Linked DNA regions of Homo sapiens: regions 1, 2, 3, 5 and 6 are each linked to region 4. Evidence: fine-mapped expression QTL. A gene starts in region 4. Each other region holds a variant in brackets. All regions are shown on one strand. Distances are from middle to middle. Region 1 holds the start of OOSP1 (oocyte secreted protein 1). Region 2 has its middle 4.6 kb from the start of MS4A3. Region 3 overlaps OOSP2 (oocyte secreted protein 2). Region 4 holds the start of TCN1 (transcobalamin 1). Region 5 overlaps OOSP3 (oocyte secreted protein family member 3). Region 6 overlaps OOSP3 (oocyte secreted protein family member 3).

Evidence for each region. PIP is the estimated chance that this variant, and not a neighbour inherited with it, causes the effect. A credible set is the group of variants that fine-mapping cannot tell apart.
Region 1: its variant is the best candidate, but not a certain one, in a credible set for the expression of TCN1 in whole blood (TOPMed, PIP 0.67).
Region 2: its variant is the best candidate, but not a certain one, in a credible set for the expression of TCN1 in whole blood (INTERVAL, PIP 0.86).
Region 3: its variant is the best candidate, but not a certain one, in a credible set for the expression of TCN1 in whole blood (INTERVAL, PIP 0.50).
Region 5: its variant is the best candidate, but not a certain one, in a credible set for the expression of TCN1 in whole blood (INTERVAL, PIP 0.67).
Region 6: its variant is the best candidate, but not a certain one, in a credible set for the expression of TCN1 in whole blood (INTERVAL, PIP 0.65).

The regions. Positions count from the first base shown.
Region 1 is chr11:59,934,108-59,939,184 of GRCh38, forward strand. It overlaps OOSP1 (oocyte secreted protein 1), which reads left to right and starts at 4,325. Exons shown (of 5, transcript NM_001395276.1): 1 at 4,325-4,423. The coding sequence starts at 4,348. The variant C/A (reference allele first, on the strand shown) is at 2,207.
Region 2 is chr11:60,049,480-60,054,556 of GRCh38, forward strand. No RefSeq gene overlaps it. Among named protein-coding and RNA genes, the nearest start is that of MS4A3, 4.6 kb to the right of the region's middle. The variant CAA/C (reference allele first, on the strand shown) is at 3,074.
Region 3 is chr11:60,042,375-60,047,451 of GRCh38, forward strand. It overlaps OOSP2 (oocyte secreted protein 2), which reads left to right. Exons shown (of 4, transcript NM_173801.5): 2 at 1,095-1,273; 3 at 2,297-2,400; 4 at 4,570-5,077. The coding sequence ends at 4,699. Among named protein-coding and RNA genes, the nearest start is that of OOSP2, 4.5 kb to the left of the region's middle. The variant A/ATTTC (reference allele first, on the strand shown) is at 2,767.
Region 4 is chr11:59,864,089-59,869,165 of GRCh38, forward strand. TCN1 (transcobalamin 1) reads right to left here and starts at 2,399. Exons shown (of 9, transcript NM_001062.4): 1 at 2,304-2,399. The coding sequence starts at 2,382.
Region 5 is chr11:59,885,421-59,890,497 of GRCh38, forward strand. All of the region lies in intron 2 of OOSP3 (oocyte secreted protein family member 3), which reads left to right. Among named protein-coding and RNA genes, the nearest start is that of OOSP3, 9.2 kb to the left of the region's middle. The variant A/G (reference allele first, on the strand shown) is at 2,126.
Region 6 is chr11:59,895,567-59,900,638 of GRCh38, forward strand. It overlaps OOSP3 (oocyte secreted protein family member 3), which reads left to right. Exons shown (of 5, transcript NM_001395255.1): 4 at 1-86; 5 at 567-917. The coding sequence ends at 647. It also overlaps the pseudogene SRD5A3P1. Among named protein-coding and RNA genes, the nearest start is that of OOSP3, 19 kb to the left of the region's middle. The variant C/A (reference allele first, on the strand shown) is at 2,269.

The sequences.
Region 1 (5,077 bases), 70 kb after region 4:
TTCCATCACCACAGTGATCCATAATATGACCTTTTAAGAGCTACATCTACTTCCCTCCTGTCCCCATCCCCTCGTAAACCCTGGTAACCACTAATTTACTCTCTGTTTCCACTTTTTCATTTCAAGGATGTTATATAAATGGAATAGTATAGCATATTACCTTTTGGGATTGGCTGTTTTCACTCAGCATAATTCCATGGAGATTCATGCAGAATGTTCCAATGAAGCAATAATTTGTTCTTTTTCTTGCTAAATAGTATCCCATGGTATAGATTACTATGGTTCGTTTAGCCATTCATTTAAAAAAAGGGCATCTAGATTGTTTCCAGTATTTTGCGACTATGAATACAACTGCTAGGAATATTGGTGTACAGGCTTTTGTGTGAAAATAAATTTTCATTTATTTGAGACATGCCCCTGACATATCATTTGCTTAATAGATATCTTTGAATAATCGAATTGATAAATTGTGAGAAGAGAATAGAAAACAAAGTGTACCACATTTAGTTATTTTCATTAATATTCTAAAATACCTGTTTGTGAGAATTTACTGTTCCATTAAAGAGGTCATTAATAGGTCACATTTCTCTATAAAAACACTAATCTTATCAGCACAGTTTGTATTCTCTGTGCTGAAGATCCCCCAGAGGCACTGCAGTGAACACACAGGGATACCAGGGGATATTTTAAAAATTTCGGGGAGACAGTGAGTGATACTTGACAACTGTCAGACATGATGCAAATTACCAGCTCAAGGTAGTCCACAGTTCCACTTTGGTGGCACTACATTCTTTTCTATTAGTCCACAACTTTGTGCAACTTGGGATCTAGTGGTTGCTGTGATGAATAGCCAAAGCAGTTACTGTGGGAAAAATCCATGTGGAATAAGGAATGAAGATGGTGATGCCCAATCTGATTTCAAGAGCTGAGATGCTGTGCAGCGTCAAACAGTTATACACATATTATTCATAATTGTGGTTAAAGAATAAAATAAAAATATTTTCTTCCAATGTATGTGTTTTCAAATGGCTACTAAGTTGTCAGCACAAAAATACTGAAGTTATTTTGATGTAACAACATAATAAATGAAGCTGTTATGTATTTCTTTTCATGAAAGGATGCCATAAAAAGCAAACAAACAACAAAAGTTACTGTATCATTAAGAGAACTAGGTGAATGTTTGGGACCCTCTGCTATAACTAGTCACATATCCTAAAAATTTTCTAAGGGAAATAATTCTTTTTGTAAAAAAAAGAAAATTTGGCAAGATAGAAGTGTAATTCTCTAAACCCAAGGCAAGAAAAGAGAATGCAGATGCGTATAGGAGAATTACTCAGTATCTTCAGCCTCTGAAAGGGAAGGCTGGTTGAGCCCCGGTCCAGAGATTTATTGAGAGTGAGACTGAAGTATCCTGTTTCTCTTAGTCAGGGAGACACTTCTGTAGGCCAGACCATTGGACACCTTAGCTAGTGAGAGGATTCTTTCTTATTTTTTTCTGTCTGAATACATGTGTAAATGGGGACATAACTGCCATATTTTAGTGTTGCTAGCCATTTAGCTGAGAGTTAATTTGAATTAGTTAGGTGTCTGGGGATCCCACTGGATAGAGACAAACAAATGACACAGTTAATAGTGAATTACCAGCCCTGTACTGGTCATACTCCAGTCGAAGTAAAATGCTCAATGTGTATTTAGCCTGCTTCTATTAATTATTATATTAAATAGGTGTAAGCGAGTCTGTTGTAATTATGACTCAGATTCCAGAAGGAATAAGTAAAATGTGACCAAATAGAATCTGAAGCAAAAATTAAACAAACTTTGAGGCAAAAATACCACAAGCAAAATCAAAAGACAAATGACTGCCTAGGAGGAAAATATTTGCATCTTATATCGCGGATAAAAGGATAATCTCCCTAATATATAAAGAGCTCTAAAACAACGGAAAAGCTATAGAAATGTTCTTAAGATTATAACATTTTTAACTTCATTTATTCTTGCCAAAAAGGTTCGAGTCTAATTGTGAGGAAATAATCAGATTCTGAATGAGAGTCTTTACTCAAGATAGCTAGCCAAGACTCTTCTGAAAAGACATTTCCATACAAAACAAAAGTCATGAGGTACAACTCAATAAGATGAGAAATAACTCAATAAAAATGAATAAAATATTTGAATAGATACTTCCTTAAAAGGATATACACATGGCAGT[C/A]TGGGCTTGGTGGCTCAAGCCTATAATCTTAGCACTTTGGGAGGCTGAGGCAGGCAGATCACCTGAGGTCAGGAGTTTGAGACCATTCTGGCCAACATGGCAAAACCCTGTCTCTATGAAGAGACCCTGTCACCTCTTCAATGCTTCCATCCTCACCTTGAAAGTATTGCTCTTCCAGTGATTTAACCAGGTAATTTTTAAGATTCAAGCCACCTATTCTTTACTAGTTTATTGACGATTTGATAACAATAGTAGTTTCGCAGATTGTCAGATACACGAGGCTAAGACTGGGTGGCTGAAAGTCAGAGACATTGCCTTGTGCATCCTTAGGTACCTGTGGACAAGGTTTTGACATTCATTTGGACTGAACCTTAGCACTGTCCATCTAGATAGCAATGTATCTGAAATGTTTTAATATACCTTTAATCTCAATACACATTAAATTAAAAAAGCATAATTATTAAAATTAAAATATATTTGTGTCTTTAACACAAGTGAAATGTAAACATTTCAAAAACTTAAAAAGAGGCCATGCTCAGTGGCTCACACCAGTAATCCCAGCATTTTGGGAGGGCGAGGCAGGCAGACCACTTGAGGTCAGGAGTTCGAGACCAGCCTGGCCAACTTGGCGAAACCACATCTCTACTAAAAACACAGAAATTAGCTGGCCATAGTGGCGGGCGCCTGTAATCCTAGCTGCTTGGGAGTCTAAGCAGGAGAATCGCTAGAACCCAGGAGGCAGAGAGTGCGGGGAGCGGAGATCGTGCCATTGCATTCTAGCCTGGGTGACAAGAGCTAAACTCCATCTCAAAAAAACAAAAACAAAACAAAAACAAACAAAAATTTTTAAAAGGAACAAATGCTAACTAATTCTATTTTTTTTCTTTCTCCTGCCATCTTTTATTGGGCACCCATTTTGTGAAAGTTAGGACACACAAAAATACAGAGGAATGATCTCAACCTTTGAAGAGCTCATCATTTAATGGCATTTTAGAACTTTTAGAACAGACTAAATTTAATGATAAAATTCAGATAATATCAAGGATAGTTAAATGCATTTATATAGTCTTTTCTATTTGTTTTTGGTAAGCTCCTACTTTCCACGTTCTATTAACGTAGGACACAGTTGCTAAACTCTAATAACTGGTTATTAGCGAAAAAAATCAGAATATATTTGAACCAAACATTCATTTAGGCTTGTTTTGGTAATGAGATTTTGAATTTCTCATTTTTAAGTTGGCATCTTCTGTTTTGAAGAAAGGAATCTAAATGTGAGTAACCATTTACAGGCATTGCTACTCACAACGTAGTCTCCAGAGCAACATCCCTGCAATCTTAAAATGCAGAATCTTAGCCTTCACCCCAGACATTCCGAATTAGAATCTGCATTGTAAAGAGAGCCTCAAGTGATGTATATGCTCCTTAAAGTTTGAGAAGCAAACATCGCTGCTAATGGGCATCAACACAGCATGCACTCTGAAGGCAAAACCCTGTAGACCAGGGATTCTCAAAGTGTGGTCCCTGGGTGGTCAGTATGAGCATCGCCTGGGAACTTGTGAGAAACATCAATTCTCAGGTCCCAGCCCAGTCTTAGTGAATCAGAAAACTAAATGACACTCAGCTGTGCTTCAATAAGCTCTCCCGGTGATTCTGATATCTATTAAGTTTGAGTACCACTGTTTAGTTGGTGAAAACAGGTGAAAGTAGATGAAATCTTTCAATTCCCATGTTCTCAGGGCTTGGCCTTCTGAGATGCACAGAACAAGTAAATTATCATCCAGTTATTTCTTTCGTGTTCAGATGTGGAGACAGATGTTATAGGATATTAGGAAGTTTTAATAAAGTAAACCTTAGTGCATAAAAATAACTATATCTGATGCTTTGGACTCTAAAACAAGTGAAGCCTTCTGTTGTACTTCTATTGCACATTTTGCTTTATCTTTGCTCTTGTTTTTTGACATTTGAGTAAAAAGTGTAACATCTTAGAAAATGAAACAAAATTATATTTATGGCACGTGTGTGCTGTCCAAAGTTGTAATTAATTACCCACACCTATGTGTGGCTTCAGGCATTTTGGCATATAAGGCTATTCTCCCCAACTTCCTGTTTCCTGAGTGAGGTTTGGTTTTCAATCTGGGCAAATGAAGACCATTCTGGGGTTCAAAGGGCTCTTTTATCTGCATTCCTTGATATGGACCTGCGCTGGGGACTGGTCAGGTATAACTTATCACTTGGGGAATAGAAGTTTCTTAAAGAGAGCTGAAAGATGTGGCTTTGGATTCTTTACAGTTGTGGTCTGGTTGAATCTTAATAATAGCCAAGGACACATGGAGGGGTGGTGCCTCTTTTCGATGTGCAATCTTGAGATACCATGTTTTTCTCTTGCATACCGGCACTGAGACTAGGGAATGTGCCCTAACCTGAGACTGTCTTTCTCCAACTCCCCTTTCCTTTTGATCTTATTCTGACCATATCAATTCTTGGGGATCAAGTACTTGAAGTGGGTTTAATATAAAGAGTGTGGAGTGGCCTGGAAAACAGAGGAGTGGGTGGTGGTAGGAACTTGGGACTCTGTGGTGTGTCACATACAGGAAGAAAGCCTTATAAGGCTTAGCCTTTCTTTACCTTATACTTCATAGATCCTTTTCATTTCAGAGGGAGCAGTCAGTGCCCCCTAAGTGAGGTGAGCAGTGGTCCAGGTTTTCCCAGTACTTTTCCTGCGTCGGCCCCAAAAACCTCCTGTTCGGAGCAAACCAGAATGATTGGTAGCCCTGAGTATAAACTTGGGCTGTCAGTTTCTCTTCCTCTATTTCTGCTTCTCTTTCTCTTTTCCTTTCTTTCTCTCCTCCCTTCTTTCTTCCTTTCTTTCTC
Region 2 (5,077 bases), 190 kb after region 4:
TTTTTGGCTGCATAAATGTCTTCTTTTGAGAAGTGTCTGTTCATGTCCTTCGCCCACTTTTTGATGGGGTTGTTTGTTTTTTTCTTGTAAATTTGTTTGAGTTCATTGTAGATTCTGGATATTAGCCCTTTGTCAGATGAGTAGGTTGTGAAAATTTTCTCCCATTTTGTAGGTTGCCTGTTCACTCTGACGGTAGTTTCTTTTGCTGTGCAGAAGCTCTTTAGTTTAATGAGATCCCATTTGTCAATTTTGGCTTTTGTTGCCATTGCTTTTGGTGTTTTAGTCATGAAGTCCTTGCCCATGCCTATGTCCTGAATGGTAATGCCTAGGTTTTCTTCTAGGGTTTTTATGGTTTTAGGTCTAACGTTTAAGTCTTTAATCCATCTTGAATTAATTTTTGTATAAGGTGTAAGGAAGGGATCCAGTTTCAGCTTTCTACATATGGCTAGCCACTTTCCCCAGCACCATTTATTAAATAGGGAATCCTTTCCCCATTGCTTGTTTTTCTCAGGTTTGTCAAAGATCAGATAGTTGTAGATATGCAGCGTTATTTCTGAGGGCTCTGTTCTGTTCCATTGATCTATATCTCTGTTTTGGTACCAGTACCATGCTGTTTTGGTTACTGTAGCCTTGTAGTATAGTTTGAAGTCAGGTAGCATGATGCCTCCAGCTTTGTTCTTTTGGCTTAGGATTGACTTGGTGATGCAAACTCTTTTTTGGTGCCATATGAACTTTAAAGTAGTTTTTTCCAATTCTGTGAAGAAAGTCATTGATAACTTGATGGGGATGGCATTGAATCTATAAATTACCTTGGGCAGTATGGCCATTTTCACGATATTGATTCTTCCTACCCATGAGCATGGAATGTTCTTCCATTTGTTTGTATCCTCTTTTATTTCATTGAGCAGTGGTTTGTAGTTCTCCTTGAAGAGGTCCTTCACGTCCCTTGTAAGTTGGATTCCTAGGTATTTTATTCTCTTTGAAGCAATTGTGAATGGGAGTTCACTCATGATTTGGCTCTCTGTTTGTCTGTTATTGGTGTATAAGAATGCTTGTGATTTTTGTACATTGATTTTGTATCCTGAGACTTTGCTGAAGTTGCTTATCAGCTTAAGGAGATTTTGGGCTGAGTCAACAGGGTTTTCTAGATATACAATCATGTCATCTGCAAACAGGGACAATTTGACTTCCTCTTTTCCTAATTGAATACCCTTTATGTCCTTCTCCTGCCTGATTGCCCTGGCCAGAACTTCCAACACTATGTTGAATAGGAGTGGTGAGAGAGGGCATCCCTGTCTTGTGCCAGTTTTCAAAGGGAATGCTTCCAATTTTTGCCCATTCAGTAAGATATTGGCTGTGGGTATGTCATAGATAGCTCTTATTATTTTGAGATACGTCCCATCAATACCTAATTTATTGAGAGATTTTAGCATGAAGGTTGTTGAATTTTGTCAAAGGCCTTTTCTGCATCTGTTGAGATAATCATGTGGTTTTTGTCTTTGGTTATATCAAATTTACAAGAAAAAAAAAACCCGTCAAAAAGTGGGCGAAGGACATGAACAGACACTTCTTAAAAGAAGACATTTATGCAGCCAAAAAACACATGAAAAAATGCTCACCATCACTGGCCATCAGAGAAATGCAAATCAAAACCACAATGAGATACCATCTCACACCAGTTAGAATGGCAATCATTAAAAAGTCAGGAAACAACAGGTGCTGGAGAGGATGTGGAGAAATAGGAACACTTTTACACTGTTGGTGGGACTGTAAACTAGTTCAACCATTGTGGAAGTCAGTGTGGCGATTCCTCAGGGATCTAGAACTAGAAATACCATTTGACCCAGCCATCCCATTACTGGGTATATACCCAAAGGACTATAAATCATGCTGCTATAAAGACACATGCATACGTATGTTTATTGTGGCACTATTCACAATAGCAAAGACTTGGAACCAACCCAAATGTCCAACAATGATAGACTGGATTAAGAAAATGTGGCACATATACACCATGGAATACTATGCAGCCATAAAAAATGATGAGTTCATGTCCTTTGTAGGGACATGGATGAAATTGGAAATCATCATTCTCAGTAAACTATTGCAAGAACAAAAAACCAAACACCGCATATTCTCACTCATAGGTGGGAATGGAACAATGAGAACACATGGACACAGGAAGGGGAACTTCACACTCTGGGGACTGTTGTGGGGTGGGGGGAGGGGGGAGGGATAGCATTAGGAGATATACCTAATGCTAAATGACGAGTTAATGGGTGCAGCACACCAGCATGGCACATGTATACATATGTAACTAATCTGCACATTGTGCACATGTACCCTAAAACTTAAAGTATAATAATAATAAAATAAAAATAAAGTCTCTCTTGCCATAAAAAAAAAAAAGAATGTGTTCATGTAGAACTCAATGGTTACCTTTCGTGAGGAGAATGCAAATCAAGGCAAAAGAAGATTAAAGAGCTGTAATATTTCACATGAAGCCCATCTTGCACTATAGAAAATGTACTTATCAGGATGAAATCCCATTAAAATGGCTGTCAAAAATGAAATCTGTTTAACTCCAAACTAAGATACAATTTTACACCCTAAAATAAAGTACATAGGCCACCCTAGTAGAAGAGGTGATCTTTCTTAGAGAAATGCATTTGTTTTTTCCTATCTTATTTCCAACTATCTCGTTATAAAGGTCTTTTAGACATACCCAGTAGTTCTACAATCTGGCTTCACATTAGCGTTACCTTGGGACCTTTAAAAAATGTTTGTGTTGGGCTGAGTGCAGTGGCTCATGCCTGTAATCCTAGCACCTTGGGAGTTTGAGGCGCGTGGATTACTTGAGGCCAGGAGTTCAAGACCAGCCTGGTCAACATGGTGAAACCCTGTCTCTACTAAAAAAAATAGAAAAATTAACTGGGCATGGTGGTGTGCCCCTGTAATCCCACCTACTCAGGAGGCTGAGGCACAAGAATCGCCTGAACCTGGGAGGCAGAGGCTGCAGTGAGCCGAGATTGTGCCATGGCACTCCAGCCTGGGCAACAGAGTAAGACTGTCT[CAA/C]AAAAAAAAAAAAAAAAAAGTTCACCTTCATGTTGGGTTCATGACAAATATCCTGATTTAATGTCTTATAAACTTCCCAGAAGATTCCACTAGGTAGTTGAAAGTAGAACTGTTGTATTAGCATTTTCTATCTAGGCTATTTCCATGTTTACCAATAAATGACATGATAAATTCTTCCAGTTTTCTTAGGACCTCTAAAACAACAGTGCCTTCATTCAAATGCTAAGATTGGATTTCTAGTCCATTTTCCTCGTTTATTTGAAAACACAGCATGAGGTCAAAACAAGAATGAATCAAAGGTAGTTTCTGATTGTTGGTTTTATTTGATGGCTCATTATTTCAAGACCTCTTGGAACAACAATCCTTGTCCGTCTTAATCTTTTATTAATCTTACAATTATAGTAACTAATGCCATTTCAACGTGATTTCAACTTGTGACTTTTGCAACATTATAAACTGGTAAATTATGAATTAAACACGTTTAATGCACCCCAAAGTCAAAAACCTTAGGTGGTTAAGTGTTTTAAGAGCTTATACATGTGTTAAGATATATAAAGGTACTGCTTCATGAAGAATGTGATTTTAATATGTACACACATGGGCATGAGTGTGTATGGGGGGGTAAAACAGACAGTGCAAGCAATAATATTTAGTAAGTAGATAAGACCAGCAAGTCTTGAGAAATATATTGCTTTTTAGTCAAATGGGGCACTTGTAAATGAATAGCTAGACTATAGGTGAATTCACTCGAAGATTTCCTTTTCCTTTTGGAAATTTGCTACTTGAGTTTTGAACTTGATTATTCTTTAAGGTATTTCAGCACTGAAAGCTAGTCAGTCTCTCCTTGATCATGTCTCCTTGCCATTGGGAAATATTGCATGCAAGTGGAAAAAAGGTCTATGAATCTTCTATTTTTCCCTTTTTAATTTGTTTAAAAAATTTTTTAATTTATTTATTTTTATTTATCAGCCATAAAAAAGAATAAGATCCAGTCATTTGCAACAACATGAATGGAACTGGAGATCATTCTGTCAAGTGCAATAAGCCAGGCACAGAAAAACAAACATCACATGTTCTCACTTGTGGGATCTAAAAACCAAAACAATTGAACTCATGAAGACAGAAAGTAGAAGGATGGTTACCAGAGGCTGGGAAGGGTAGTGGGGGCCTGGGAGGGGAGGTGGGGATGGTTAATGGGTACAAAAAAATAGAATAAATAAGACCCACTATTTGATAGCAAAACAGGGTGACTGTAGTCAATAACTGTACATTTTTAAGATAAAGAGTGTAATTGGATTGTTTGCAATGCAATGGATAACTGCTTAAGGGGATGGATACCCCATTCTTCATGATGTGAGTATTATGCATTTCATGCCTGTATCAAAATGTCTCATGTACCTCATAAGTATATACACTAGGTACTTACAAAAATGGAAAAAATAGGGGGCCGGGCGTGGTGGCTCATGCCTGTAATCCCAGCACTTTGGGAGGCCGAGGCAGGTGGATCACGAGGTCAAGAGATCGAGACAATCCTGCCCAACGTGGTGAAACCCCATCTCTACTGAAAATACAAAAATTAGCTGGGCGTTGTGGTGTGTGCCTGTAGTCCCAGCTACTCGGGAGTCTGAGGCAGGAGAATTGCTTGAACCCGGAGGCGGAGCTTGCAGTGAGCTGAGATCGCGCCACTGCACTCCAGCCTGGTGACAGAGTGAGACTCTGTCTCAAATAAATACATAAAAAATAAAAATAATTTTTATGTATTTATTTTACTGTTCCCCCCTCAGCTTTAATGAGGTACAGTCAGATACATATGTTCTGCAGATCTAATGAACAGCATGATAACTGAAGTTAATACTGTACTATGTACTTGAAGTTTAAGAGAGGAGATCTTAAATGTTCTCACCACCACCACCAAAAAAAAAAAAAGATGATTATGTGATCTGATGTGATCAGTAGATTATCTGCTTTGTGTTAGTGACTTCACAATGCACACATGTGTCAA
Region 3 (5,077 bases), 180 kb after region 4:
CATTTGCCTCTACACCTTTTCTGAAATGTGCATTGTCTTACCTTGTTGATGATTTCTCTCTAAAGGCGGAACTTCCAAGCTCCAGTGGTGGTGGAGTCCTCTGTGGCCACTTGCTCATTAATAATTTAAATATGTACCTTTTAATGCTGAAAAGACTCAGTTCCTCCAAATGAATCTATTGCAAATAATGATTATTATTGACTTACTGACGATTTAAATATAGAGGATAAAGATGGGTTTTACAACAAAACGTGCATGGAGCTAACATCCCAAATAAAGGGCTTTCTCTCTCTTTTTCCTTTTATGGCTGAGATTGTTTCTGGTTCTGGCTGCTCTAGACAAGAATTCTACTGTTCTAGAACCACCCTTTCTCCTCTTTCTCTTTCCAAAAGTATACTGGGATGATATCGCTTTTATTCTAACACATTGCAATTCACTTCTGCCCCTTATGTTTTGTCCTAAATATATCCCCCTCCATGGAATATTTAGGAAATATTAAGGGGCTATACGGTTATGGTTTTTCATTTTCTTTCTTATTTTTTTTTTCTTTTTTGGAGTCTCTCTCTGTCACCCAGGCTGGAGTGCAGTGGCGCGATCTTGGTTCACTGCAAGCCCCGCCTCCTGGGTTCTCGCCGTTCTCCTGCCTCAGCCTCCCGAGTAGCTGGGACTACAGGCGCTTGCCACCACACCCGGCTAATTTTTTGTATTTTTAGTAGAGACGGGGTTTCACTGTGTTAGCCAGGACGGTCTCGATCTCCTGACCTTGTAATGCGCCCGCCTCGGCCTCCCAAAAGGCTGGGATTACAGGCGTCAGCCACTGCGCCCGGCCCATTTATGCTTTTTCTTATTCTTGCATGTTGATCCTCCCACCTCCTCCATGAAATTGCTGAAATCTAGTTACATGGGGGCATAATTAGTTAGGTATTTTGGAAAATAATTTTAATAATGTTTGTAAGAAAACCTTTAAGCCATGGTTACCCTTGCCAGAGAAATAAATGCCTTTTATTTATCACAGAGGGCAGAGTTGACTATTCTTTGAACACTTTCTTAAGATAGACACCCTTCTGATGCTTTTCATATGGTTCTTTCCACAGTGAAAATAAGTTGCTCTCTGGACTGGTTGATGGTCTCAGTTATCCCAGTTGCAGAAAGCAGAAATCTGTATATATTTGCGGATGAATTACATCTGGGAATGGGCTGCCCTGCAAATCGGATACATACATATGTATATGAGTTTATATATCTTGTTCGTGATTGTGGCATCAGGACAAGGGTAAGAACAGTGATTGTTTGTAAAAAATACTGCATGTTTTGTCAGACTTTTATGCCTAGTATTAAAATTGTCTTTTAAAAAAATAATGTTTGCTTCTCATTGTAGTAATTTATGGGCAGGGGACAACGGAATTTATCATTATTTTTCACTGAATATTGGGTCATTCTGTGTGCACAGGACCTTAGATCACAGATTTATAAATTGGCTAGGGAACTGATTCTAAGTTGCCCTTAGGCTACTATTATATTTTACTAAATATTAGCAGACTGCTTTAAATTTTGTGTGATTCTTCTAATGTGGAAGGTCACCAATCTTGGGAAGCTCCATCATGTTCAATGTTAGGTCATTTGAAATCTATCCATGTTCCATGAGGATTTGTGTAAATATATAGTGGATTTTCATTGAAATGAAATCTCTTGTCATTCAGCTAGGCACAAATCCTAAATTGCGTTGTTATCCTGGGATATTATCTTCTCACAGATTCCCAAATTTAAGCAATTTATATTCACACTACACAAATATTTTGGGCCAGTGACCAATGATAATAACAATCATTTTTGAATAAAGTATTTTATTTTAGAAATTGGGAACTTGGAGCTTCAGAAGGTGCTTTACCAGCTTTTCCAGGGATGCACTGCTTGTTGGTGGTAGTTTAGATACCAAACCAGGATGAATACTCTCCGAAGCTTGTGCTTTAAACCACTCTCCGTTATTTGACTTACAAATCACCTTTCTCAAAGGAACTGTTGGAAACCTTTTCATTAATGAATCATAAAGATGGCTGTAAGCGGCAGTTTAAATTTGCTGCAATGAATTAAGATTGTTTTGCCCCCAGGCATTTTAAATTCACTCTTAGGGATAACACTCCTCTTCTGTCCCAGTGAGTTGTCATATCTTTATTTATATTTAAGAATGACAGTAGCCATTTTTGAGATCATGAATGTTTTTTACATCCTATTCAAGTGTGTGTATTCCTCATCTGTTACTCCAAATATCTTCCACTGAAACTTCATGCTCTCCTAGGTAGTTTCTGAGGAAACTCTCCTTTTTCAAACCGAGCTGTACTTTACCCCAAGGAATATAGATCATGACCCTCAGGAAATCCATTTGGAGTGTTCCACCTCTAGGTAAGTCCAGCAGATTTGATTCCTTTGGAATGTTTTAGCTTTACCTTTGCTTATGAGAAGCTTCTGCAGAAGCATAGACTTTAGAGAATATAACATGATTCACCCATAAGTATAATTGTAAACAAACCCCAAATTAGTATTTACACAAATATTTTAATGAGTACTTTAAAATGTTTTAATATTTTGAATGTAATGTTTATTTTAGAATAAAAACATATAGATTTATAATGGTCCTAACAATCTAGTGTAACTATGTTATTTTATAATAACTCAACTACAAAGCAGAGTCATTAAATACTCTGTCACCTTTAGTAAGTGATAGGATTAAGCACTGATATTATCTTTCAATGTTTTGTCTTTTATAAT[A/ATTTC]TTCTGATACATTTTATTGCTCAATTTCATCTTATAAGAGTAAGTGGCTAAAAACATAAGAAAATCAGTCCTTCATTTAATACTAACTCATGGAGAATACATGAAGGGAGGGCTTATCAGCCTAATTATTAAATGTACTTTGCTTGCAATTTTGTGGAACTGAGATATTGAATCCCAAGAGCCTCGTGTGAACTTTGAGACTAAGTGGAAAGGTATCCTGATACACTTTTTTTTTTTTTGCCATGCCATTGAAATATTTATGTTAAGTCTTATAAATCTGAGTGAAGAACCTTGGAAACTATCTCAAAACCACAGGAAAATTTTTATCCTTGCTTAATATGTGAAAATAGTTGACATCAAAATAAGAATTTAGAGCTCAGCCAATGTGCAATGTCTTAATGTGATTATAGTACTTTTTCTCAAGGAGAGGCAGAATTTTTTTTTAATTTTGGTAAAATATACATAATCTTGTACATTTGTACAAGTTGTAAATTTGTTAAAATGTATATAATCTTTTTTAATTTTGGGAAAATGTACAAATCTTTTAATTTTGGTAAAATGTACATAATCTAAGATACCATTTTAAGTGTACAGTTCAGTGGCATTAAGTCCATTCACATTGTTAATACTTTTACTCTTCCCTTTAACTTATTTTCATAAAGTATTTTCATAATACTTTTACTCTTCCCTTTAACTTATTTTCATAAAGGCTGAGGGATTTAGTGATATTCAGGAACATAGCTGAACTCTAAATAGAAACCACCCCTTGATTCTCTGTCTCTATCTCTGTCTCTGTCCTTGTCTGTCCCTGTCTTTCTGGTCTGTCCCTGTTTCTCTGGCCTGTCTCTCTGGTCTGTCCCTCTGTCTCTCACTCTGCCTTTGCCTCTGTCTCTGTCTGTCTGTCTGTCTCTCTGTCTTTGTCTGTCTCTCTCTGTCTGTCTCTCTCTCTCTGTCTCTGTCCCTGTCTCTCTGGTCTGTCCCTGTCTCTCTGGCCTGTCTCTCTGTCTCTCTGGTCTCTCTGTCTCTCGCTCTGCCTCTCTCTCGGTTTCTCTGTCTCTCTCTCTCTCTCTGTCTCTCTCTCTTTCTCCCTGTCTCTCTCCATCTCCATCTCTTTGTCTCTGTCTACCTTTCACACACATACATATGTTTTCAATTCTATGAACTACCCAAAGCTTGGAGCAACACAGAGTTCTGATCTAATGCCTCAGAACTACTGCCTTTCCGTAGGCTGCCAGAGTAATCATGATAAATAGATATTCCTATTTTGATAGTAACTACTATGTTGCTTGAAGCCTACTTTCCTTAAAAAAAAAATGAAGACTTGGCCAACAAAGTTGTCTGTTTAGGTTTTGGGTGCATGAATTTTAATGTTGTAGTCTCTCTCTCTCATATTCACTTACTCACATTGACATATAGAACTTTGCTGCCACTACAGTGGGACAGATTAAGCTTTTGGTGGCTTTTTCTTACTGTTCTTAGGATCCATTTGGCTGAGTCTGTTTTGCTGGGTACATTGGTACTCTTCTAATGCAAGCATCACAAATTATCTAAGACCATTCGTCTTTCTACTCAGTGTTTGATGCAGAAATCATGGGGAGACTATCTGGAATTAGTTCTTCTGTAAGCCTATCTGCTCAAATCCTGTACCAAGAGTCCACGAGGATCTAGAAGGCATAGTATGCTGGCTCTATGCCATACTCCTGAATGACTATTCTGTATATGATCATGATATTAAACAGTGGTAAAACTGACTTGATCCCAAGTGCTCCAACACTATCTGCTTTCTGTTTCCCTTTTCTTTAGGAAATCAGTGTGGCTTACACCAGTTTCTACTGAGAATGAAATAAAATTGGATCCTAGTCCTTTTATTGCTGACTTTCAGACAACAGCAGAAGAGTTAGGATTATTATCTTCTAGTCCAAACTTGCTCTGAGCTAAAGGAGAAATGGAAACTTGAAGCTGGTGTTATGTATTTTGCAGGAAAACAGTTTCATTTTTTCATAGCAAAAATATAGTTGGTGTATATCTCTCCTTAAGTCTCTGGTTTCTAAAAACCCTACTTCAGTAAAGGTCCTGATTAGTTGATTAGTGAATGTGTATTTCTAAATATTTGTATTCAGTAGGGGTATGGCTGATTAATTTAACATTAACTATTAGGTAATTCATATTATACATTTAAGTTCTTTCTGTTCTGTGTAGAAGATTCAGAAATATGTCTTCAAAGACAATGACTTGATCTAATTGATAAGAACCTCCAATAAATATGTTCTAATATTTTTCAGGAAGAATAAAGAATAGAGAGAGACATATA
Region 4 (5,077 bases):
GTGGCAGAGAAGGAAGGAAATAAGAAACACATACTCAGAAAATAGTAAGACTTGCAGCAGGGGTTATATAAAAATATTTAGTAACAGATATGGCACAGACCTAGACCAATCCAGTGGCTGCAGACTGTGTTGGTGGAATAATACAAAGGTGGGTCTTGAACCCACCCCCATGCCAGACATTACTCCTTTAACAACCAACATGAAAATGTTTTAATATTTTAACAACTGGTGCAGACTTATCATTGTGTACTGGCAGACTCCTGCCTGGGAAATCTAGCATCATTCCCTAATTTTGTATATGAAGCTTAGATAGATTGTCCTTAAAGAAACTTCCATAATTGGAGGCTGAGCTGAAACTAGACTACATGTCTTCTGACTCTCAGTAAGCAGGACTTTCTACTTCCTGGATTCAGTTCTTTCCTTCTCCATCTTCTAAATCAACTGGGTTAATGTTGAGAAAATGCAGGTAATAATTCTGTGTTATACTGGTGATTGACCCCAAAACTTCATTGTCTGATTACCCAGCTGGCTGGGCATCGAGATCATTATTTAGCATTATGCAGCCTGTAAAAAACTCTCCAGTTTTAGCCTACAATATGCCCCAATTCCAGAGATGGAGGGAAGTCACATTATACTGTGGAAGTAGGAAAATCCATAGCTCCCAAGGAAATAGAGGAGAATAAAAAGATTTACTATTTATTTAAACACAGGACACTTTGTCAATGTATTTTTCCATAATCTTGAGGAGTAGCCCCAAATCCTACATATCTCCAGATTATCTAATGGATTAGTGGGAGAGTGAGAAGAACATGAGGTTTGGATTCAGATTTTGGCCACATTTTGTGCTCCTTAACTTATGACTGTGGATAATAACTTATGTAACTTGTTTTACTCTTAGTTTTCTCATTTAAAAATTGTGGCTGTTAACACTTACCTTACAGATATTGGACAAGAAACCACCGAATAAACTGTAAAATGCTGCACATACTATTATTTCCAGCTCAACTGGAGTTTTTATCACTATACTTGAGAATCAAGGAAATGTAATTTCTCTTGCCCAGTTTTCTTTACTTTAAAAGAATGAGTCAAGAAGATCTGAATAGAGTGATTGTAGAAAGGTCATGGTTTGTTGCAGACACAATGGAACAATTGTGAGTCAGTTCTCTGAGATTTTGTGGAACCATCCAGCTCAGCAGATTTTCTGGCCCTGAAACAGACTTTTTAGTTCCTGATCAACAACTCAAATCAGCTTCCTTGAGTCTCAAAGATAAATTTAATTATTATCATTATTATTTAAAATGAATTGAAAGCTAAAACCTACATAGCCATTCCCTATTCTTAGGATCCAACAGGGGAAATGTCAAGCCAAGAAGAAAAATCAGAGTCAGAAGAGTCTATGCTTTAGCCTGTATGTATACAAGCCTGTCTTCTGTGGTGTTCTCTTCTTACTGGTTAGAGAGCACAGATAGTACCACCTAGTAATCTTTGGACTGGTTTGAAGCTCAATTTCAGAGTAAAGTCTCACAAAAGAGAATTCATGCACTTGAGAACTGCACCAGACTTCATGAGATAATTTGCTTCAATAGTCTCCCCTCATTATCCTTTATTTATGAATGAAGCTAAAGAAATTCAGAAATGTTGGGTCATTCAATAACTAAGGGATCAAACTAAACCTGAATTTAGTTTTCCCTTCTCTTACTTTAAAGTTCTTTTACAGAACCACACAATCTCTGGGGTCAACACCCATGCAAGAGATGATGGAACTTTATCCCATGTGTCCTGGGAAAGAGTTGAAGGAAGGTGGACATGCAACTTGGAACATCTAAACTCACTCATGACAAGACAGCAGTCATCACTATTTGAAAGAGATTATTATTTTTTTCTATGTAGTTACAAGGGGTTAACCCAAAAATCATGCATTGAATTTCAGGGAAAAAAGATTGCATATCAAGACCAAAAGATAACTTTCCATGATCTAGAAAAGTTTCTGGGAGCATAAATTTTCTGTCATTGAAAAGTCACATGAATAGGGAGTTACTTGGTAGGGATGCTGTGCTAGAGAGGATCTGAGCATAGAAAGAGCAGTTAGGCAAGTGAATACACAATCTATAATTCCTCTTACAACAACATGCATTGTGAGACTTTCCTCACCATCTCCTGCCACCCTTTTCATCATTCATGGAGTCCAACCACATACGAAACTGGAATGGGATCTTTTCTCAGGTAACTCTACATAGAGTCTCTTGTCAACAGTTTTCAGTAGACTATCACTCTAGAGTAATTTTAGCTCAAAGTTTACTCACCACAAATCTCGCATAGTTGGCTTGGAATAAAAGAAAACAGTAAGAGCCCCACTAGGGGCAGCTGGTGTGACTGTCTCATCTCTCCAACAGTGTACCAGAATGTTGATGAATTGGCTGGCTATTTATTAAGTGATGGGCAGAAGGTAATGAGAGCTCCTCCTTCAGGTTGCCTCAGCCTCTTTTCACTCAAGCAAATATTGAGCAATGTCAGGAGGTGTGGTCAAGTGTATTTGTCCATGTGATGTAATAAATAAGGAAGAAGACTTGAAGGATGTGGTTAGGGAGAATAAGGCAATAACTTTCCTTTGTCTCCTGTCCTAAACCTTCGGGTTTCATATCTATTATTTGCCTTCCGTGCAGTGAAGATATATTAGGCAAATGACTGTTTCCTATAATCTTTCCTTTTTTTTCCGTTTCACTTTATGTTTTATGTTTCCTGATAAAGTAGATTTGATCATGCAAACACATACAACATATAAAAATGGAAGTAAAAGAAGACATCCAAATGGGAAGCAGGCATATGAAAAAGTGCTTGAAAAGGTGCTTAACATCATTGATCATCAGATAAATGGAAATCAAAGCTACAATGAGATATCCTCTCATCTCAGCTAAAAATGGCTTTATTCAAAACACAGGCAATAACAAATGCTGGCACGGATGTAGAGAAAAGGGAAGCCTTGTACACTGTTGGTGGGAATGTAAATTAGTACAATCACTATGGAGAACAGTTTGGAGCTTCCTCAAAAAACTAAACATAGAGCTACCATATGATCCAGCAATCCCACTGCTGGCTATATACCCAAAAGAAAGAAGACCAGTATATTGAAGAGATATCTGCACTCCCATGTTTGTTGCAGCACTGTTTACAATAACCAAGATTTGGAAGCAAGCTAAGTGTCTATCAACAGATAAATGAACACAGCAAATGTACATATACACAATGGAGTACTATTCAGCCATATAAAAGAATGAAATCCTGTCAGTTGTGACAAAATGGATGGAACTGGAGATAATTATGTTAAGTGAAATAAGCCAGGCACAGAAAGACATACATTGCATGTTCTCACTTATTTGTGGGATCTAAAAATCAAAACAATTGAATTCATAGAGATAGAGAATGAAAAGATGGTTACTGGGGGCTGGGAAGGCTAGTGGTGGGAAGGAGATGCGGAGGGTTAATGGGTACAAAATATTGGAAAGAATGAATAAGACCTACTATTGGTAGCATAACAGGGTGACTATAGTCAATAATAATTTAATTGTACATTTTAAATAACTAATAGTATAACTGGATTGTTTGTAACGTAAAGGATAAATGCTTGACAGGATGAATACCCCCTTCTCTATGATGTGATTATTACGCATTGCATGCCTGTATCAAAACATTTCATGAGCCCCATAAATATATACACCTACTATGTACCTACAAAAATTGAAATAAAAAAATTTAAAAACGGAAGTAAAAGTTGTAAGTCTGAAATTGAAGCAGGCAGTATTGGAGAACCCAGCACATGAGGGGATCTTTGGCATAGTGGTTTCCAAACTATGATTTTTCTCCTAAGATAGATTCCATGAGAGTTTCCTAACCAAGGAGGAAAACCAGAGAGCTATACATCAAATGTGAATTTCTGCCCTGCCAGGGCAGTTGCTACATGTGAGAAGTGTTGCCTATCACAGTTCTTCTGAGAACTATTAGAGAATACTGTCAGCCTAGCTAAGGATGTCATGACTTAATGAGCCACTATTTGCATTGTACCTCTGTGATGGTTAATTTTCTGTGTCAACTTGACTGGCACCTGAGTGCCCAGATTAAACACTATTTCTCGATGTATCTGTGAGGGTGTTTCCAGATAGGATTAGCATTTTAATTGGTGGACTCTGGAAAGTAGAATGCCGTCTCCAATGTAGGTGTGCATCAATCAATCTATTGAGACCCTGAATAGAATAAAATGGTGAAGGAAGGGGGAATTCACCCTTTTTTTGCTTCCTGCCAGCCTGTTTGAGCTAGGACATCTTATCTTCTCCAGCCCTCAAACTGAGATTTACACCATCGGCTCCCCTGGTTCTTGGGCTTTCAGTTTGGCCTGAATCACTCCACTGACTTTTACTGCATGCAGACAGTAGACTGTGGGACTTCTTAGCCTCCATAAGGGCATGAATCAACTCCTTGGAATAAATCTCTTTCTCTCTCTCACATATTTATATAAAACTTATGTGGAAACCACCATTCTACTCTCTGTTTCCATGTATTTGATAATTTTTAGAATCTACATATAAATGAGATCATAGTATTTGTCTGTGACTTATTTCATTTAGCATGATATTCTTCAGGTTCATCCATGCTGTCTCAAAGGGCACTATTTCCTTCTTTTTTATGGCTGAATACTATTCTATTATATAAATATAAATATATATATACACACACACACATATATGTGTGTGTGTATATAAATCACAATTTTTATCCCTTCATCCATCAACAGATATGTAGGTTGTTTCTATGTCTTTGATATTGTGAATAATGCTGCAATGAACATGGGAGTACATATTTTATATAATATATATTTTTGTTTGTTTGTTTGTTTGTTTGTTTGTTTTTGAGACAGAGTTTCTCTCTTGTCGCCCAAGCTGGAGTGCAATGGTGCAATCTCAGCTCACTGGAAACTCCACCTCCCGGGTCCAAGTGATTTTCCTGCCTCAGCCTCCAGAGTAGCTGGGATTACAGGTATCTGCCACCACACCGGCTAACTTTTCTATTTTTTTTTAGTAGAGAC
Region 5 (5,077 bases), 21 kb after region 4:
GATCATCCCATCACCTAGGTATGAAGCCCAGCATGCATTAGCTATTCTCCCTCCCCATCCCCCTGACAGTCCCCAGTGTGTGTTGTTGTCCCCCATGTGTCCATGTGTTCTCATCATTCAGCTCCCACTTATAAGTGAAAACATGCAGTATTTGATTTTCTGTTCCTGCAGTAGTTTGTGGAGGATAATGGCTTCCAACTCCATCCATGTCCCAGCAGAGTACATGATCTTCTTCCTTTTTATGGCTGCATACTATTCCATGGTGCATATGTACCACATCTTCTTTATCCAATCTATCATTGATGGGCATTTGGGTTGGAAGTTTTTTTACGTACATTCATAAGGTACATTGATCTATAGTTTCTTTTTGTGATGTCTTTGGTTTTAATATCAGGGCAATACATCATAGAATGAGTTGAATAATGTGCCATCTTCTATTTCTTTTTTTAAAAAATATTTATTTTAATTTTTTAAAATTTTATTTTATGTTCTGGGGTACATGTGCTGGATGTGCAGATTTGTTACATAGGTAAATGTGTGCCATGGTGGTTTGCTGCAACTATCAATCCATCACCTAGGTATCCAGCCCAGCATGCATTAACTATTTTTCCTAATGCTCTACTCCCCCACCCTCCCCTGACAAGCCCCTATGTGTGTTATTCCCCTCTCTGTGTCCATGTGTTTTCATTATTCAGCTCCCACCTTTAAGTGAGAACATGCAGTGTTTGGTTTTCTGTTCCTGTGTTAGCTTGCTGAGGATAATGGCTTCCAGCTTCACCTAAGTCCCTGCAAAGGACATGATCTGATTCCTTTTTATGGCTGCATAGTATTCCATGGTATGTATGTACCACATTTTCTTTATCCAATCTATCATTGATGGGCATTTGGGTTGATTCCATGTCTTTGCTATTGTGAATAGTGCTGCAATGAACATACACGTGCGTGAATCCTTGTAATAGAATTTATATTCTTTTGGGTATATACCCAGTAAAGGGATTGTTTGATCAAATGCATGTATCCTTGTAACAGAATGATTTACATTCTTTTGAGTATATACCCAGTAATGGGGTTGTTTGGTCAAGTGGTATTTCCAGTTGTAAATCTTTGAGGAATCACCACACTGTCTTCCACAATGGTGGAACTAATTTACATTCCCACCAACAGTGTAAAAGAGTTCCTATTTCTCTGCAACCTCTCCAGTATCTGTTGTTTCTTGACTTTTTAATAATCACCATTCTGACTGGTGTGAGAACGTATCTCATTGTGGTTTTAATTTTCATTTCTCTAATGATCAGTGATGTTGAGCTTTTATGTTTTTTGGCCACATGTATGTCTTATTTTGAGAAGTATCTGTTCATGTCATTTGCCCACTTTTTTTTTTTTTTTTTGATACGGAGTCTTGCTCTGTCACCCAGGCTGGGGTGCAGTGGTGTGATCTTGGCTCACTGCAACCTCCGCCTCCCAGATTCAAGCGATTCTGCTGCCTCAGCCTCCCGAATAGCTGGGAGTATAGGCGTGTGCCACCATGCCCGGCTAATTTTTTTTTGTATTTTTAGTAGAGACTGGGTTTCACAATGTTGGCCAGGCTGGTCTTGAACTCCTGCCCTCAAGTGATTCGTGTGCCTTGGCCTCCCAAAGTGCTGGGATTACAGGCATGAGCCACCACACCCCTTTGCCCACTTTTTAATGGTTTTTTTTTTGTTGTTTTTTTTTTTGTAAACTTGCTTAAGTTCCTTGTAGATTCTGGATATTAGACCTTTGTCAGATGGATAGATTGCAAAAATTTTCTCCCATTCTGTAGGTTGTCTGTTTGCTCTGATGATAGTTTCTTTTGCAGTGCAGAAGCTCTTTAGTTTAATTAGATCCCATTTGTCAATTTTTGCTTTTGTTGCAATTGCTTTTGTTGCTTATGATGCAATTTTTTGGCAATGTCATCATAAAATCTTTGCACATGTGTATGACCTGAATGGTATTGCCTAGATTTTCTTCTAGGGTTTCTATAGTTTTGGGTTTTACACTTAAGTCTTTAATCCATCTTGAGTTAGTTTTTGTGTAAGGTGTAAGGAAGGGATCCAGTTTCAATTTTCTGCATATGACTAGCCAGTTCTCCCAGCACCATTTATTA[A/G]ATAGGAAATCCTTTCCCCATTGCTTGTTTTTGTCAGGTTTGTCAAAGATCAGATGGTTGTAGATGTGCAGTTTTATTTCTGAGTTCTGTATTTTGTTTTATTGGTTTATATGTCTGTTTTTGCACCAGTACCATGCTGTTTTGATTACTGTAGCCTTGCAGTATAGTTTGAGGTTTTGTAGCATGATGCCTCCAGCTTTGTTCTTTTTGTTTAGGATTGTCCTGGCTGTACAAGCTCTTTTTCGGTTCCATATGATTTTTAAAATAGTTTTTTTTTCTAATTCTGTCAAGAATGTCAATGGTAGTTTAATGGGAATGGCACTGAATCTAGAAATTGCTTTGGGCAGTTTGGGCATTTTTACGATATTGATTCTTCCTATCCAATAGCATGGAATGTTTTTTTCATCTGTTTGTGTCCTCTCTGGTTTCCTTGAGCAGTGATTTGTAGTTCTCCTTGAAGAAGTCCTTCACTTCCCTTGTTAGCTGTATTCCTAGGCATTTTATTCTCTTTGTGGCAATTGTGAATGGGAGTTCATTTATAATTTGGCTCTCTGCTTGTCTGTTGTTGGTGTATAGGAATGCTTGTGATTTTTGCACATTGATTTTGTATCCTGAGGTTTTCCTGAAGTTGTTTATCAGCTTAAGAAGCTTTTGGCTGAGTCCATGGGGTTTTCTAGATATAGGATCACATCATCTGCAAACAAAGACAATTTGACTTTCTCTCTTCTTATATGAATACCATTTCTTTCTTTCTTTTGCCTGATTGCTCTGGCCAGAACTTCCAGCTATGTTGAATAAGAGTACTGAGAGAGGGCATCTTTGTCCTGTGCCATTTTTCAAGGGGAATGTTTACAGGTTTTGCCCTTTCGTTCTGATATTGGCTGTGGGTTTGTCATAAATGGCTCTTATGGTTTTGAGGTATGTTCTTTCAAACCTAGTTTATTGAGAGTTTTTAACATGAAGGGATGTTGAATTTTCTCAAAGCCTTTTCTGTATCTATTGAGATTATCCTGTGGTTTTTGTCTTTAGTTCTGTTTATGTGACAAATTATGTTTATTGATTTGCATATGTTGAACCAGCCTTGCATCCTGGGGATGAAGCCAACTTGATTGTGGTGTATAAGCTTTTTGATGTGTTGCTAGATTCAGTTTGCCAGTATTTTATTGAGGATTTTTGCATTGATATTCATCAGGGATATTGGCCTGAAGTTTTCTTTTTTTGTTGTATCTCTGTCAGGGTTTGGTATCAGAATGATGCTGGCCTCATAACATGAGTTAGAGAGAAGTTCCTTATTTTCAATGGTTGGGAATAGTTTCAGAAGGAATGGTACCAGCTCCTCTTTGTATCTCTGGTAGAATTCAGCTGTAAATCCAACGGGTCCTGGGCTTCTTTGTTTGTTTGGTTGGTAGGCTATTTGTTACTGCCTCAATTTCAGAACTTGTTATTGGTCTATTCAGGGATTCAACTTCCTGGTTCAGTCTTGGGAGAGTGTACGTGTCCTGGAGTTTATCCATTTTTTTCTAGATTTTCTAGTTTGAGGTGTTTATAGTATTCTCTGATGGTTGGTTGTATTTCTGTAGGGTCAGTGGTGGTATCCCCCTTATCATTTCTGAATGTGTTTATATGAATCTTCTCTATTTTCTTCTTTATTAGTCTAGCTAGTGGTCTACCTATTTTGTTGATTTTTTTTTTTTCCAAAAAAGCAGCTCCTAGATTCATTGATTTTTTTGAAGGGTTTTTCATGTCTCTATTTCCTTCAGTTCTTCTCTGAGCTTGGCTATTTCTTGTCTTCTGCTAGCTCTGGGGTTTCTCTTGTTTCTCTAGTTCTTTTTAGTTTTGATGTTAGGGTGTTAATTTGAAATCTTTTCAGCTTTTTGATGTTAGCATTTTAGTGCTATAAATTTCCCTCTTAACACTGCATTAGCTGCATCCCAGGGATTTTGATACATTGTCTTCTTGTTCTCATTAGTTTCAAAGAACTTGATTTCTGCCTTAATTTCATTATTTACCCAGAAGTCATTCAGGAGCAGGTTGTTCAATTTCCATGTAATTGTGTGGTTTTGAGTGGGTTTCTTAATCTTGAGTTCTAATTTGATTATGCTGTGGTCTGAGAGACTGTTATATTTCAGTTCTTTTGCATTTGCTGAGGAGTGTTTTACTTTCAATTATGTGATGAATTTTAGAGTAAGTTATGTGGCACTGAGAAGAATGTATGTTCTGTTGTTTTGGGGTGTAGAGTTCTGTAGATATCTATCAGGTCCACTTGATCCAGAGCTGAGTTCAAGTCCTGAATATCTTTGTTAATTTTATGTCTCAATCTAATATTGACAGTGGGGTATTAAAGTCTCCCACTATTGTGTGGGGGTCTAAGTCTCTTTGTAGGTCTTTAAGAACTTATTTTATGAATCTGGGTGCTCCTGTGTTGGGTTCATATATATTTAGGATAGTTAGCTTTTCTTGTTGAATTGAACCCTTTACCATGTAATGACCTTCTTTGTCTTTTTTGACCTTTGTTGGTTTAAATTCTATTTTGTCAGAAACTAGGATTGCAACTCCTGCTTTTTTCTGCTTTCCATTTGCTTGGTAAATTTTCCTCCATCCCTTTATTTTTATCCTATTTGTGTCTTTGCATATGAGATGTGTCTCTTGAATACAGCACACCAATGAATCTTGTCTTTTTATCCAGCTTGCCATTCTGTGTCTTTTAATTGGGGCATTTAGCACATTTACATTTAAGGTTGATATTGCTATGTGTGAATTTGGTCCTGTCATCATGATGCTGGCTGGTTAATTTGCAGACTTGTTAATGTAGTTGCTTCATAGTGTCATTGGTCTGTGTACTTTAGTGTGTTTTTGTAGTGGCTGATAATGGTTTTTCCTTTCCATGTTTAATGCTTCCTTCAGGAACTCTTGCAAGGAAGGCCTTCTGGTGATGAGATCCTTTAGCATTTG
Region 6 (5,072 bases), 31 kb after region 4:
CCGCTACCAATTCTTATTCTCCCTGGAACTTAACCAACGCTAGCTTATTTGGATTGACTCGGATTCCATATTTTCAAAACTCCTCGGTGAGGATCCTTAGAAGAGACAAAACATGGCAGTGTCCATGTAGAAATGATCGTATTGACATAAGGAAGTAAAAGCTCAAATCTCTACTAAGGAGGGTATTTGTTGTTTAAATAGTGTTTAACTACATGATGGGTCTCACATTACATTTCAATCCTGTTTAGAAAAAATGCTACTTCCATGTGTCTACATATATCCTGGTCTTGTCAATAAGTCTCCCTTTACCCTAGTTATGACAAATAAAAGAAAATCTCTAGTATAGTTTAAACATAATCTGAGTTGATAAACCACTTACTTTAAATAGTGCTCAGACACTTGAATAAAAATTTTCAACTCTTTCAACCCTTCCCTCTAATCCCTGGCACATAGTAGGTTCTCCGTGTTCACTAGTCAATATATTAGTCAATGTGTTTACTGTGCCAAGTTTATCAAGGGGTTACATTGGAAACTTTTTATTAACTACCTTTCTTTTTTCTCTGTAGGTAGAGGCATCTCATCAGTCACTTCTACTTAATATGTCTCATCCATTAGTCCATGAGAGTGCAAATGTAGCTATATTCTAGGTTCTTCCATGGCAATCCTGAAAACTCTGTTGCTACAGCTTACTTAAAATTTAATTTTTGAACCACTCACTACAGATTTATCACTTTTTGGTGCCACTTCCTGAGAGGACATTGGGTTGGGATAGAGCCCAGTGCTTCATATGTTTTTAAAAAGTGCTCCTTTTAAACATAGGCCATTATACCCTTGCATAGTCTCTTATAATACAATGTCTATGTATAATTTGTATGTGGAGTTGATCTTACAAATAAAATGTGCTGTCCCTTTGGCTATACTTCTTGATGACTGGGTTATAATCTCAAAACAGAACCTAGGCTGGGATGTAGGCATGGAAGGGTCTCTGTCCTCCACCTGCTGTTAGTGTACAAGTCATGTTTTAAATACAGTAGACTGAGAATAATCCTACATAGTTGTTTAATTCCTTTAAGAAAGATTTAGTATCCATGATAGAAATGAGCACCATTGGATCAACCAGGAAATAGAGTAGAAAGTTTGACCTCCTCTAGGCCCATGGCCTTGGGAAACAGCGATAGCAGAATATTTCCGTATCTTTCTTCAAGATCAATAGGGTGAGACTAGTTTTTATTCTTGGCACTCTAGGAACTAAACCTTTAGTGATCCCTTAGGACCATCCTTCTTTATTTCAATGACCACTCTCCAGTTAGTAAGAACATCATTCTGAAACATGCTCATGAGGATCTTGAGATGTTTCTAACAAAACCTCAAGTCCTGCCTGTGTGATTCTATTCTTCATATTGGGAAACCTTAGGCAATAGGGTTTATTGACTAGATACTTGTTATTTCAAATAACTGGGTGAAGGTAGACATCTTTTAATCTCCATCAGTGTTTCCTGCTGGCAGAACCTAAAGGTGAGGCTTGAAAATCTAATTTTTGAACTCTTGGCTCCAACATTGTAGGGCAGAGAGAGGCACATGTGGTAGTGAGACAACAGGTAAGCAACACACATAGGCTTGCTGCACCAACAGCGCTACTGCTTTCTATTTTAGTAAGGGGACCAGTAAGGATTTGTGTGTTAATTAGGACTAAAGTTGGTTACAGTTCACTTATTCATTCTCCCTTTCTTCCTCCCTGCCTCTCTCTCTTTCATATCTAGTATTCATTTGAAATGAACGAATCCCTGTTACTTTTGTTGAAAACATTACTAGACATTTTCATCATCCTTTAAATATAAACAGTATATTCAGACTCCTCGTGTCCTTCTTCAAAAAACCCCGGTAATTTAAGAATGAAAACAAACTGGAAAACTCAGAAAATGGCGATAAAAGTGGGTAGTTTCCATTTCAGCAATGAAGACATGCAAGAATTTTTGTATTAATTAGGACCAAGAATGGATAGAGTTTGTGTATTTAATCTCTCTCTTTCATAGATAGCATTCATTTGGAATGAACTTATTACTTTCATTCATAAAATATTTCTGTTTTTCCATTGTCCCTTAAAGTCAAAAGCCCACCAAGTCCAGAATAGGAGCCAGCGGTGGTAAAGGCAGACAGAGAGTGATAACCCTAATCACTGTCCCAGAGCTGTGATGCTTCATTCTTGAAAGGAGGATTGCCAGGCGTGATGGCTCACGCTTGTAATCCCAGCACTTTGGGAGGCCAAGG[C/A]GGGCAGATCACCTGAGATCGGGAATTAGAGACCAGTCCGATCAACATGGAGAGACCCCGCCTCTACTAAAAATACAAAATTAGCCGGGAGTGGCGGTGCATGCCTGTAATCTCAGCTACTTGGGAGTCTGAGGCAGGAGAATCGCTTGAACCCGGGAGGCGGAGGTTGCGGTGAGCCGACATAGCGCCATTGCACTCCAGCCTGGGCAACAAGAGTGAAACTCCTTCTAAAAAAAAAAAAAGATTTAAAGTTCTAAGATGGCTAAGATGGGCGCACGACGCGCCAGTGGCCACTACTCCGCGGGCTGACGGTGGCGGCGCTGGCAGCGCGGAACGCGGGCGCCTAAGCCATGGCTTCCTCAGGGAGAGCTGAGCTCTGGGCGCTGAACCCGCTGCGCTTGCTGTGGCTCACGCCGGCCGCCGCCTTCCTGCTGACCCTGCTGTTGCAGCTTCTGCCGCTCGGCCTGCTCCTGGGCCGCGCATTCTTCCAGGACCTGATCCGCTTTGGGAAAACAAGTGTTGGGGGGCCTCCGCGCCCCGCCGCCTGTCGCACCTTTGATGTCCCCAAGAGATATTTTTTCCTACTTCTCCCACTTCTATATCATCTCAGTGCTGTGGAATGGCTTCCTGCTTTGGTGCCTTACTCCATCTCTGTTCCTGGCAGCATCTTTTCCAAGCTGGCTTTATGGTTTGCTCAGAATTCTCAGGGCAGCACAGTTCCAGGGAGGGAAGCTGGCGCTGTCTGCGTTCTTAGTGCTGGTATTTCCGTGGCTGCGCAGCTTACGAAGAGTGCTTCTAAGTCAGTGTCTTCTCCAATGGCACGACTCACATCGTGCAATACTGTTTTGGACTTGCCTACTATGTCCTTGTCGGCCTATCTGTGCTGAGCCAAGTGCCAATGGATAGCAGGAATGCCTATGTAACAGGGAAAAAGCTACTGATGCAAGTGCGGTGGTTCCATATTCTCGGGATGATGATATTCATCTGGCCATCTGCCCATCAGTATAAGTGCCATGTCATTCTCGGCAATCTCAGGGTAAATAAAGCAGGAGTGGTCATTCACTGTAACCACAGAATCCCATTTGGAGACTGGTTTGAATGTTTTCTTCCCCTGACTACTTAGCAGATCTGATGATCTACATTTCCATGGCTGTCACCTTTGGGTTCCACAACTTGGTGAATAGTGGTGACATATGTCTTCTTCAATCCGGCCCTGCCTGCCTTTCTCAGCCACAAATTCTACAAAAGTAAATTTGTCTCCTACCCGAAGCATAGGAAAGCTTTCCTATCATTTTTGTTTTAAGTCAACCTCAGTCATGAAGAATGCAAACTAGGTGATGGTTTCCATGCCTAAGGACAGTGAAGTCTGGAGTCCAAAGTACAGTTTCTGCAGAACTGCTTGAAACTCTCTGTTCCATTTCTATGCCCCACAAGTTTTCACTGAATGAGCATGGCAGTGCCACTCAAGAAAATGAATCTCCAGTGTCTTCAAAGAAGAAATACTAATGGCAGATCTGCGATTTCTGTGTCCACTTTCTGAGATACTCTATAAAAACCAACCGGTAAAAAGTAGATGAGACTTCTCCAAGCTGCTTCACAAGCAAACTAACCAAAAATATATAAACAGTGTCACACATGCACACACACACACATACACAAAGGAAGAGATAAGTGCAAGGCTCTTGTATTGGTTCGAAACCCGAGAACGTGCCAACAAACACCACAAGGCGGTGTGGAGCAACAGGCTGTTTTAATGAGCACCTGGGTGCAGACGGGCTGAGGCGTAAAATGGTGTCAGCCCTAAGTGAAGACGGGGCAGGGGTTTTATAGTTTCCTATAAACAGGAAGTGTCCCAGTCTGACGTAACTGCTACGTGGTACCCGGATGGCCTCTCTCTCGATCTGCAGGGGGCACATGTCTTCTGGCCAGCTCACTTCCTGCTTCTTCTATCTTGCTGAGGCACAGTGCTGGTGCAAGTGGCCTTGCGCCTTGGGACTGGGCCTGAGGAGGGAGGAGTTACTCATCCCCCTAAGCTTTCAGGCCCTGGGGAGAATCTTTCAATAAAATCATCAATGGCTGTAACAGCCTGGTAGGAATGGACTATATAATAATACAGCAGGTGCTCAATAAATATTTGTTGCATTTCAGTAAAAGCAGAATAAACTTTGAAAATAATAAAAGGCTGAGTGCAGTGACTCACACCTGTAATCCCAGCATTTCGGGAGGCCGAGGTGGGCAGATCGCTGGGGCCCAGGAGTTGGAGACCAGCCTGGGCAAGATGGCGAAACCCTGTCTCCATCAAAAAATATAAAAATTTGCCAAGAGTGGTGGCAGGCACCTGTAGTCCCAGCTCCTTGCAGGTGGGCTGAGGTGGAAGGATCGCTTGAGCCTGGGAGGTTAAGCGTGCAGTGAGTCAAGATCACACCACTGCACTCCAGCCTGGGCAACAGGGCAAGACCCTGTCTCAAAATAATAATAATATATAGTTTTACACCAAAAGTTTCGGGGAAAAATGAGTTTGCTGGAGTTAATTTATACTTTCATGCATTACCACAAAGATCTCCAGTTACATAACTATCAATAGCCATTTCCACTCATCTCCCCCTCGAATCATAGCCTAATGGAACGTTTTGAAAGCTTCTTTATTTAATATTTCTTTTATGTCCTTTGAAGGGAGCACTTCAAAAGTGAAAGCATCAGAACATAAAATATATTTATGCATAGCAAGCCTTCTTGAATGGAAATGACACACTCTGGATTGAATAATACAGTAGCCTCATTCATATGTAGTTATTTAAATTGGA